Linked DNA regions of Homo sapiens: region 1 is linked to region 2. The links come from fine-mapping of genetic effects on gene expression. A gene starts in region 2. The other region holds a variant in brackets. All regions are shown on one strand. Distances are from middle to middle. Region 1 overlaps LOC101927281 (a long non-coding RNA gene). Region 2 holds the start of ANXA1 (annexin A1).

Evidence for each region.
Region 1: its variant is fine-mapped to the expression of ANXA1 in whole blood (INTERVAL, PIP 0.98).

Annotation. Positions count from the first base shown.
Region 1 is chr9:73,280,286-73,284,693 of GRCh38, forward strand. The region is part of intron 1 of LOC101927281 (a long non-coding RNA gene); the gene reads left to right. Among named protein-coding and RNA genes, the nearest start is that of ANXA1, 130 kb to the left of the region's middle. The variant A/G (reference allele first, on the strand shown) is at 2,771.
Region 2 is chr9:73,149,259-73,153,666 of GRCh38, forward strand. ANXA1 (annexin A1) reads left to right here and starts at 2,607. Exons shown (of 13, transcript NM_000700.3): 1 at 2,607-2,666. RefSeq lists a cis regulatory region at 315-565.

The sequences.
Region 1 (4,408 bases), 130 kb after region 2:
GTGTCCTGGGGAGCTTGAATTTATTTGTCACCCGCTCAAACAACTGTGTTGTTTATATAAGTCTTTAAAACCCTGATACTTTTCCGCTACTATGTCTTAATCCCTGGTTCTTTATGCTCAGGAGGGCAATTTAGAGTTGTTTTCAATTAAGTAGAATGGAGAGGGGCACTTATTCCAAAAACAGATAGCTGTGTTGTGAGTATTTTGCCAAACATGCTGAGTGGTTTAGATTTAAGCATCAGGTTGGGAGAAGCTTTGGGATCTCCTTGAAGATAATGATATCTGCTGTTTGGTGCTTTTAATATCAGTAATACATAGTTGAACATAATCACAATTAACGACATAAATGTGGCAAGGAAGGTTGAGATGTTAAGGCTAAACACAAATGTGAAGCAAAGAGCTGAGATAATTATCTAGGATGGCAATCCAGATCATGCAATACTTTCGATTAGAATATGCAGATGATATGCAAATAATTGAGGTCAAAATTTTATTTAACACTGGGCAAAATAGAATGAAAATCAATCCATTGAATTTTGTTCACACAGAGGTGGGACATTTATTTTCATGACCTAAAATGTACCAATACTTTATGTTACATAGAAAAAGTCAGACTAGAAACTGGGTATCAACTTACTAACAGCAAAGTAACTACACACGCTGTTAATATTGACTCTGTCTCAACAATAATTTAAACTGCAGTACTTAGGTTCCATCGTGTTTTACAAAACTCATGTCATTTAATTCTCACAGTGAACCAAGGGAAGATAATGTTATTAACTCAATTTCATAGGTGAACAAATGGCGGCGGCATCTAAAAGTTAGAGATTCACCCAAGATTGGTCAGCTGGTGAGTGGGTGGAACCAAAGTTTGCACTCAAGTCTACCTACTTCTAAAGACTAGGCTTTTGGTACTCAACTGCATGGCTATTAGCACTAAGTTTGCAGAATGACTAGTAGGGTTTGTTGAATGGGTTGTTTAAATAGAATAAAATATAAGTTAAAAAATTGACTAACTCTTAGATGAGACACAAGGGCATTAGATTTCAGAAGTGCATGAAGAAATTTTCTGCTTAGCAATATCTATGCAATGGTGAAAACCCACTTAAAGTCTTCACTGTCTGTTTATTTGGCTAAACTGACTGATGGCAGGGTGTCTACTTTGTACTGTGTTCCTTCAGCCTGGCTCCCTATTTTTTGGTGTGTTAGTATAGTTTGTTTTCAGCTGAAGTTATTAATTGGGGCAAAATATTAACATGCTTGGGAATGTTGCATATGGATTAGGTCAACCTGTTGTTATTCTGACTTAATTTTCTATTATTGATCAGCTATACATTAATTTGTTTTTAAGAAATATTCATTGAGGTAAAACAGTCCATATTTAAGATGAAGAAGAATTTAAAGGAGAAGGGTTATGTGATGATAATTAGCCTGATACTTTAGGCATAACAATTTTAAATTTTGTTTATATTTAGGCTTATTGATAGTTATTAGGTTGGACAATCATATATCAAATGGATTATTTAAATATTTTAATATATAATAATCACACTGTGATTTACCATGTACTTTTCAGTTAAGAGATGTATAGGTACAGTGTTTTACTTGATTTTCAAAATAGTCTTGTGGGTTATGACATTTTTATCATTTTCACTTTACAAATGAAGAAATAAAGACATACAAAAATAAGTGATCAGATTAACTATAGCAGTAAAACAGATACCTGAAGTAAAACCTGGGTAAAAGAACAAAACATTGAGACAGGAGGGATTATACAAATATTAGAGTGAAACACTGAAATATTTTAATTATTCTACTTTACCTTTTATGTGAAATTATAACAACTAGTATGTTTGGAGTGGGCAAATCTAAGCATTCTCAACTCTTAAGGAGGCAAAATTTAGAGAAAGTCAACAATCCTGATAAGGGGCAAAAAAAAAAAATTAAAAAAAGATACTGACAGGTTGAAACTGATGTAAAATTTTTATGTAACTCAAACGTTTCTAGGGCTAATTTCTACAATTTCAAGTACTCAAAGAGAATTTTAAAATTGAGTAGGATTATAATCAGATTTTCTAACCTTAAAAGAGATACTTATTTTCAGTCTAAAATATTTACTCATACATTACTAATCAGTTATATATCAGTGAGCAACAGATCTCTGGAAGACTCTAGGTTTGTGGTCAATAACATTGAATTTAAGAAATCTCCCTCTCTCTCAAAATAGCATAATCTCCATGTTTGTTAATTAATGGAAGGTGATACTGAAGCGTTGTCTATATCTGATATTGGAAGGTGTTAGGATTCTGAAACTGTACTTGTAGCAATGTAGCCAGGCAGTTCAGGCAGATAACATACTGATTGTTTAACCTTTTGCATAGAGAATTAATTATAGCTTGACTTTGCTCATGTTTTGTTCTGGTTGTTTTAACACTGTGTAGCTTCTAATTGCCTTTTTAGAAGCATTCTATAAGAGAAGCAAAATTAATCTCACTGGCTAATAATTCATTTAGCCAGAAGTTAACAAAAATGTATTGATTACTTCCTATGCACCAGAAACTGTTAGAATCTGGACAAAACGTGGGCAAAAATGGACATACTCTCTGTTTTCATAAAATTTAATGTCAAGTGTAAAAGACAGATATTAATCAAGTAATGTGTAACAAATAATATGAAACTACTTTCTTAAAAGTCATGAAAGAGAGGTATATTGTAGTCTGTAACTATGAGAACATATGATTCAGGAAACTAAATTCGTCTGGAGAGTCTG[A/G]TAATGTTTCCTTGCAAAATCAATGAATAAATGAAGAGTGAATATAAGTTAGGTAAAAAGTGAAGGAAAGAGCAGCTGTACAATGGGTACAGTCCATGCAAAAGTCTCATCACAGGAAGAAGCAAGGCATACACAGTGATTGGGGAGGAGAAAGTGAGGAAGAGTATGGTGGATTATGAGACTAGAAAAATGGGTTGGTAACCAACCCTGTAGGAATTTGGCTTATTAATCCCAAATGGTCATTTCTTCATATGTATATATATTCAATACATTGAGAACTTATTATACACAATAGATTTGCTATGAATGATGGTTAATTTAATGGGTCCAGTTGGCTTTGTATGGTGCCCAGATGTTTGGTCAAACATGCTTGTAGATGTTTCTATGAAGGTGTTTTCTTGGATGGGATTAACATTTAAGTTGATGGGCTTTGAGTAAAGCAGATTACCTTCCATAATGTGGCTGCACCTCCTTCCATCAGGTGAAGGACTTAATAGAACAAAGACCATCCTCCACTCATCAAGAAAGACTTATGCCAGGAGACTGCCTCTGAACTCAAACAGTGAGTTTCCCGTGGTCTGTAGCCTGCCAGTCTACTTTGTAAGTTTTGAATTTACCAAGTCTTCAAAGTCATGTGAGCCAATTTTTAAAAGTTACTCTTTCTCTCAGTGTTTCTCTCTGTTCCTCTAGATAGGTAGATAGACAGATAGATAGATAGATAGATAGATAGATAGATAGATAAGAACAGATAGAGAGAGAGAGAGATGATAGAGAGAGAGATCGATCCCATTGGTTCTATTTCTCTAGAGAACCCTAACTAATACACTAGGTTATTATAATGATGGAGGACATACCTATTTGGATACTTAAGGCAGAGTTTAAAACTAATAAGCAGGTAAGAAATACAGTGTGGTAATATGAAACTAAGACAAATAAGTGAGCTAGACAAATCACAGTAAGAGCTATAAGAATGAGAGCATCTGGTGGGCCACAGTGCCTAGGCAGGCTCAAGGAGTTGGTAGGACTTGACAGATGGGACAGGGGAGGGTAGCCCGGTTATGGTATGCAGTAGAGTAGAGGGAGAAGTAAGTGTGGGATGTTTGCAAGCCTCTGAGCAGAACAGCCTGGATAAAGTAGAGTCTTCTGTTAATAAGCCCTCAAGCCTGGCATTCATCCCTCCCTCAAGAGGAGTATCAGAACCCAGAGCTATCTTGTTTTTAGAAGGAAGACACTGTGTGGAGGGAAACTGGATGTGTGGCAACCTCACAGGAAAGGCAAGTTGATAAGATTTTCTTTATGAATTATTCAGAAACAGAAAATTAAGTAACGAGTCCTGTATGATAGTCTAGTTCTATCTGGATTGTTTTCACCTCACAGGGGGATACAAAATAAGATGAGTAGAGCAAAAAGAAAGTAAAATAACCAGTCAGCCAAATATAGCGAGAGAAACAGTGCCTTGGACTCACAGCATGTGGACTCAATGAGAGACGTGCTCCTGAGGGAGCGGTAAAGCAAGCCTTCTGTTCACTGGTGATGCGAACCTACGAGCGCGAACTGCATTGCCAGAGTCCTTTACTGCTCTTTATGCAACTAGGTTAATCCTTTTTGTTGCTTCTTTCTTTCTTTCCGGAAAAGAAC
Region 2 (4,408 bases):
GATTTTTGTTGGCTGTGGATAGGGGGTATGAGGAAGCTGTGGGGAGATTTTGGAATATCTGTGAAATGCTGTTCTTGATCATTCAGAATATACTCTTTCTTCCATATAACAAGTAATGCTTAGATAGAGTTAAATGTAAAGGATGAGGGGACAGCTTACTAAGATCAGATATTTTGCAAGAGTCTTATGCACAATGAGATGTATGTGAGAGACTCCATATTTCCTCTCCTTGTTTTGTTTTGTTTCCTCTTCACTATCAGATTCTAAACCAAATGAGTGAAAATAAACATGCTGTGAAAAACGTAACATATAGAGATTGATTTTAACTGTCTTTTTTCTTTCCTTCTCTTTCTTTATTTTCTCTGTTTGTAAAGTAAGTGGAGCCGATGAATCATCATCTTCTAGAAACAGCAAGAGTGGTGAGTCATTTCTCTGGAGTATGTGGCATTTCACCCACAGAAAGCATTTAACCCATGATTATCCCCTCACTGTTAATGATAACATATTTTACTTGTTCTTTTATTTCCATAAATCTACTCGACATTATTATTATGCGGAGAAAAAGATTCTGACAGATTATTCACAGCAATATACCTACATGATTAGTGGCTTTCTTTTTGTGTTATGTTTGGGAGTTTCACTTGCCTTTAGTGTTACAGCTGGAAGTTAATTTTGGAAAAACATTCTTTTCACTTTTTTTTTCTTAATTCTGCTACAATTATCATATTTATTGTTGCTATTTTAGGTTTGCCTATGTATTACAAATCCAAACATATAAAATAATTCCATTCAGTTTATGGCACTGGTAATAGCAGCAACAAAGCAAAATGAGACTATACATGTTTTCTAGGTTGTTATATTTTATAAAAAGTAAGTGGAATTTTTTCTTCATTTCACAAGAGCATCACTGTGCAGGAATGTTCCAATAGTTCCATTACCAGAGTTAGGAATACAAACGCAAATTAAAGAAAAAAAGAAAACCAGATTTTGTATAATCATCTTATTCCTTCTCACCTGATGACATAAATATGGTATTAGAAAGTTAGTCTACATCTGTCAAGATCAATTTGCAATAATATCAATTAACTTAACTTGTTAGCAGGTAACTAATTAATTTTCAACTTACACATATGATAGTAAAAACATATATTGACATTTTCTTAAATATTTAGATTAGATGATCATCCTACTTCAGGATATGTTGACTTCATTGATATTGGCATCGAGCACTTAGAATGTATTATAAAATACTGCCAATCTTTAGAAAGTATTTTCATTAACTTCCTAAACTTCATGTTTTTTATGTGAAATATCTATGAGGAAAAGAGGAAAAAGAACAAACCACTAAATGCAGCATAAATTGAGCCATAATGCTGTGAGATTTTACACCTGTGCACTTTAATGGAAACATCATATAATACTTTGTAGGGTTTAAAGAAGAATGAAAATGAACCACTATGGAAGTTACCAGAACCAATTTTCCTCCATTGGGTGGGAAATTTCTTATGGAATGTGTTCTGTAATAGTTGCTGCTCCATTAATCCTTTCATTTTATAGGTCTAGTTCCTTGTTTTGGTGTTCAACTAGTCTACAATGTCAAAGATGTGTATCAAAATGTATATATAACTGATCTATATTACAGTTTATATATATAGTTCTATGTAACTGACTCTATTTAAAAGAATTAATGTAGATAGGCCTTCTGATGTCAATGCTTTTATTGAATGTCATAATGATCAAATTTTTGGCATTACCTTTGTTCAAAATTTTGAGCCAATCTGGAACTTTATTACTTCTATATTTCTTATTTATAACAACAAGCTATATCTAGGAACAAAAGTCGTTTATTTTTTAAGGCAAGAAAAATATAAATAGAAAATTATTCGGCACTGTGTAATGTTAAAATTTACAAATATATGTTATTTCTCCATTGTCACAAGAATTCTAGTGGGTAGACAACTTAGATAATGCTCCTATATACAAAAGTAAAAACAGCTAGGCATGGTGGCTCACGCCTGTGATTCCAACTCTTAGGGAGACAGAGGCAGGAGGATAGCCTGAGCCCAGGAGTTTGAGACCTGCCTGGGCAATATAACGAGACCCCATTCTCCACAAAAAGCGGGGGAAAAAGACAACAAAACAAAAGTAAAAACAGGTTCAGAAAAATTAAGTATGTCCCTAAAGTCACAGAATAATAAGTGATGGAGGTGGAATTCAAATGTAATATTTTGTTTGTTGGTTTGTTTAGTTTTGAAGGTAACATACTTTTTAGTCTACAACCTATTTAACTACAAAAGTGTGCCAATCACTGGTATTAGGATTGGGGCAGATGTATACTCTGAAAATAAAAGTGCAAAATAAATATCCCATCTGGAAATAAAAGTGCAAAATAAAGAGGGAGGAAAAATCAGCCCTTCCATTTCTTTTCCTTTGTAATGCCAGTTGAATTGGTTTAGTGAGTAGTTTTGCAAGACTTGTTTCACTTTGTTTTTGGACATAGCTGAGCCATGTACTTCAAACAGAAGGCAGCCAATTACTAACTTCTGGTTGCTAGGTGTGGCTTCCTTTAAAATCCTATAAAATCAGAAGCCCAAGTCTCCACTGCCAGTGTGAAATCTTCAGAGAAGAATTTCTCTTTAGTTCTTTGCAAGAAGGTAGAGATAAAGGTAAGTCTTGGTTTTCCTTTTAGTTAGTTTTGGTTGTTTTGAAAACTTTTCTCATCACTATGTTAAATGTTACTGCTTCTACAGGATTTATGGTTAGTTGCATTTAACATGATAAGTCATTCATAAATCTTTCTGTAGAATTACATTGGATATTTATATTTTAGGAATCACAAATTACAATATTTTTGTTCTACTTAGTTAACAAATACAAGTAAAAATAAGATAAGTTTGCTTAATACTGGCTCATTGTACTCTTGGTAAGTTACCATGAGAAAGAAGGGAAGAATGTGCTTTCCCTCTGGTAGCCTTAAAAGAATGTGTTTTTCCTTTCCTTCCCCTTGAAATATTTCTTCCCAAGAGCTGTGTGTTTTACAGAGAAATCGTGATGGGGGCTGCTTTTTGGGGGCAAGAACAAAAGTGATAGGAGTGGGCTGCAGGGAACTGTTTCAAAATAGTAGGACTTTCATAATTTATTTTCTTCTTTTGTAAGGAAAACAAGATAGATTCAGACCTCAAAGTGCTAATCATGCTCTTTGTAATAAACATTTAAAAATATATGTTATATTTGCTTATGCTATTTAAAATAAGAAGGTCCGCTTATTACTTTTTTCATTTAAAGAGGGTGTGGCCACATTCCTTTTCTTGTAGGCTCTGTGTCATATACAGTCTTTTCAAGTGCTGGCTGGAAAACCTAAAAAGAAGGGAAATACTTTCTGGGTAGTGTCAGATACATTATCCTAGGGGAATGTCAGTGAGGCCCTCCAACAGCTATTCCACTTGATTGTTGCATGAGCTAATGGCCATAAAACTCCTTAGAAAAGCACAAAGCAAAACTAAAGAAGAGTATTTACTAGTGTTGGATATATTTGTAAAAGTGAGATTACAAATCATGTATCTGGCTATTTTTTTCTTAAACATGTTCCTTCAAGAATTTTTCTGTTCGTTCATTTTAAATATTTATTAAATGTTCTGATTTCTTATGTTCACTGCTAGCTAATTAACAAGGATGGAATTTTTCTTGCCTTGGTTATATCTAAAAGATTGTAAAAACTTTGAGAAAGCAATGTTGCCCTCTTTCCACAGGAGTATTTTGGTAGCTGTAAGAGAATGCACATTGCAAATGACTCAAATGTGGTAAAATGTTGGTTTCATAATTCTGAAATGGCCTCTTCCCCAAAAGTGACAGTAACACCCTAGCTCCAGGCTCAACCACATCCAGCACATAGCCAACATTTAACAGATGTTGACAAAATAGTTAATAATAATATTATTAAGGAACCAGCCAGAGTTTCATGCTTATTAAATACTTTTTCAACCAGAAGGTCTGCAAAGGTTGATTTCTGAATATGACGTTAGCTCTCTCTAGACCTATTAATTTACGACATTTCAAATCAGAGGTAAACCAGCAGACCTATTATTTTTCAATGATAAACTATAAACAGTTTTTTGAAGTCAACTATTTCCTTTTCCTTTAAAATTGGACAGAATTTCATCAGGAAGCTCAGAACAATCCAATTTATATAATGCCTTCCTTCATTATGCTAATTTTCTTCATCTTCATCTACTTGAAGTAATATTTAAGATTGGCACTTCAGAGCTGTAAATGGATCTTAGATGATAATTACTTCAACATTCTTATTTTATAAACGAAGACCCTCTGGAGAAGCTAAATGTTTTTCTTGAGGTCAGATCGCCAGATAATCAAGAACCAGTATACTTCAATTTGTATTTTATATCCTATA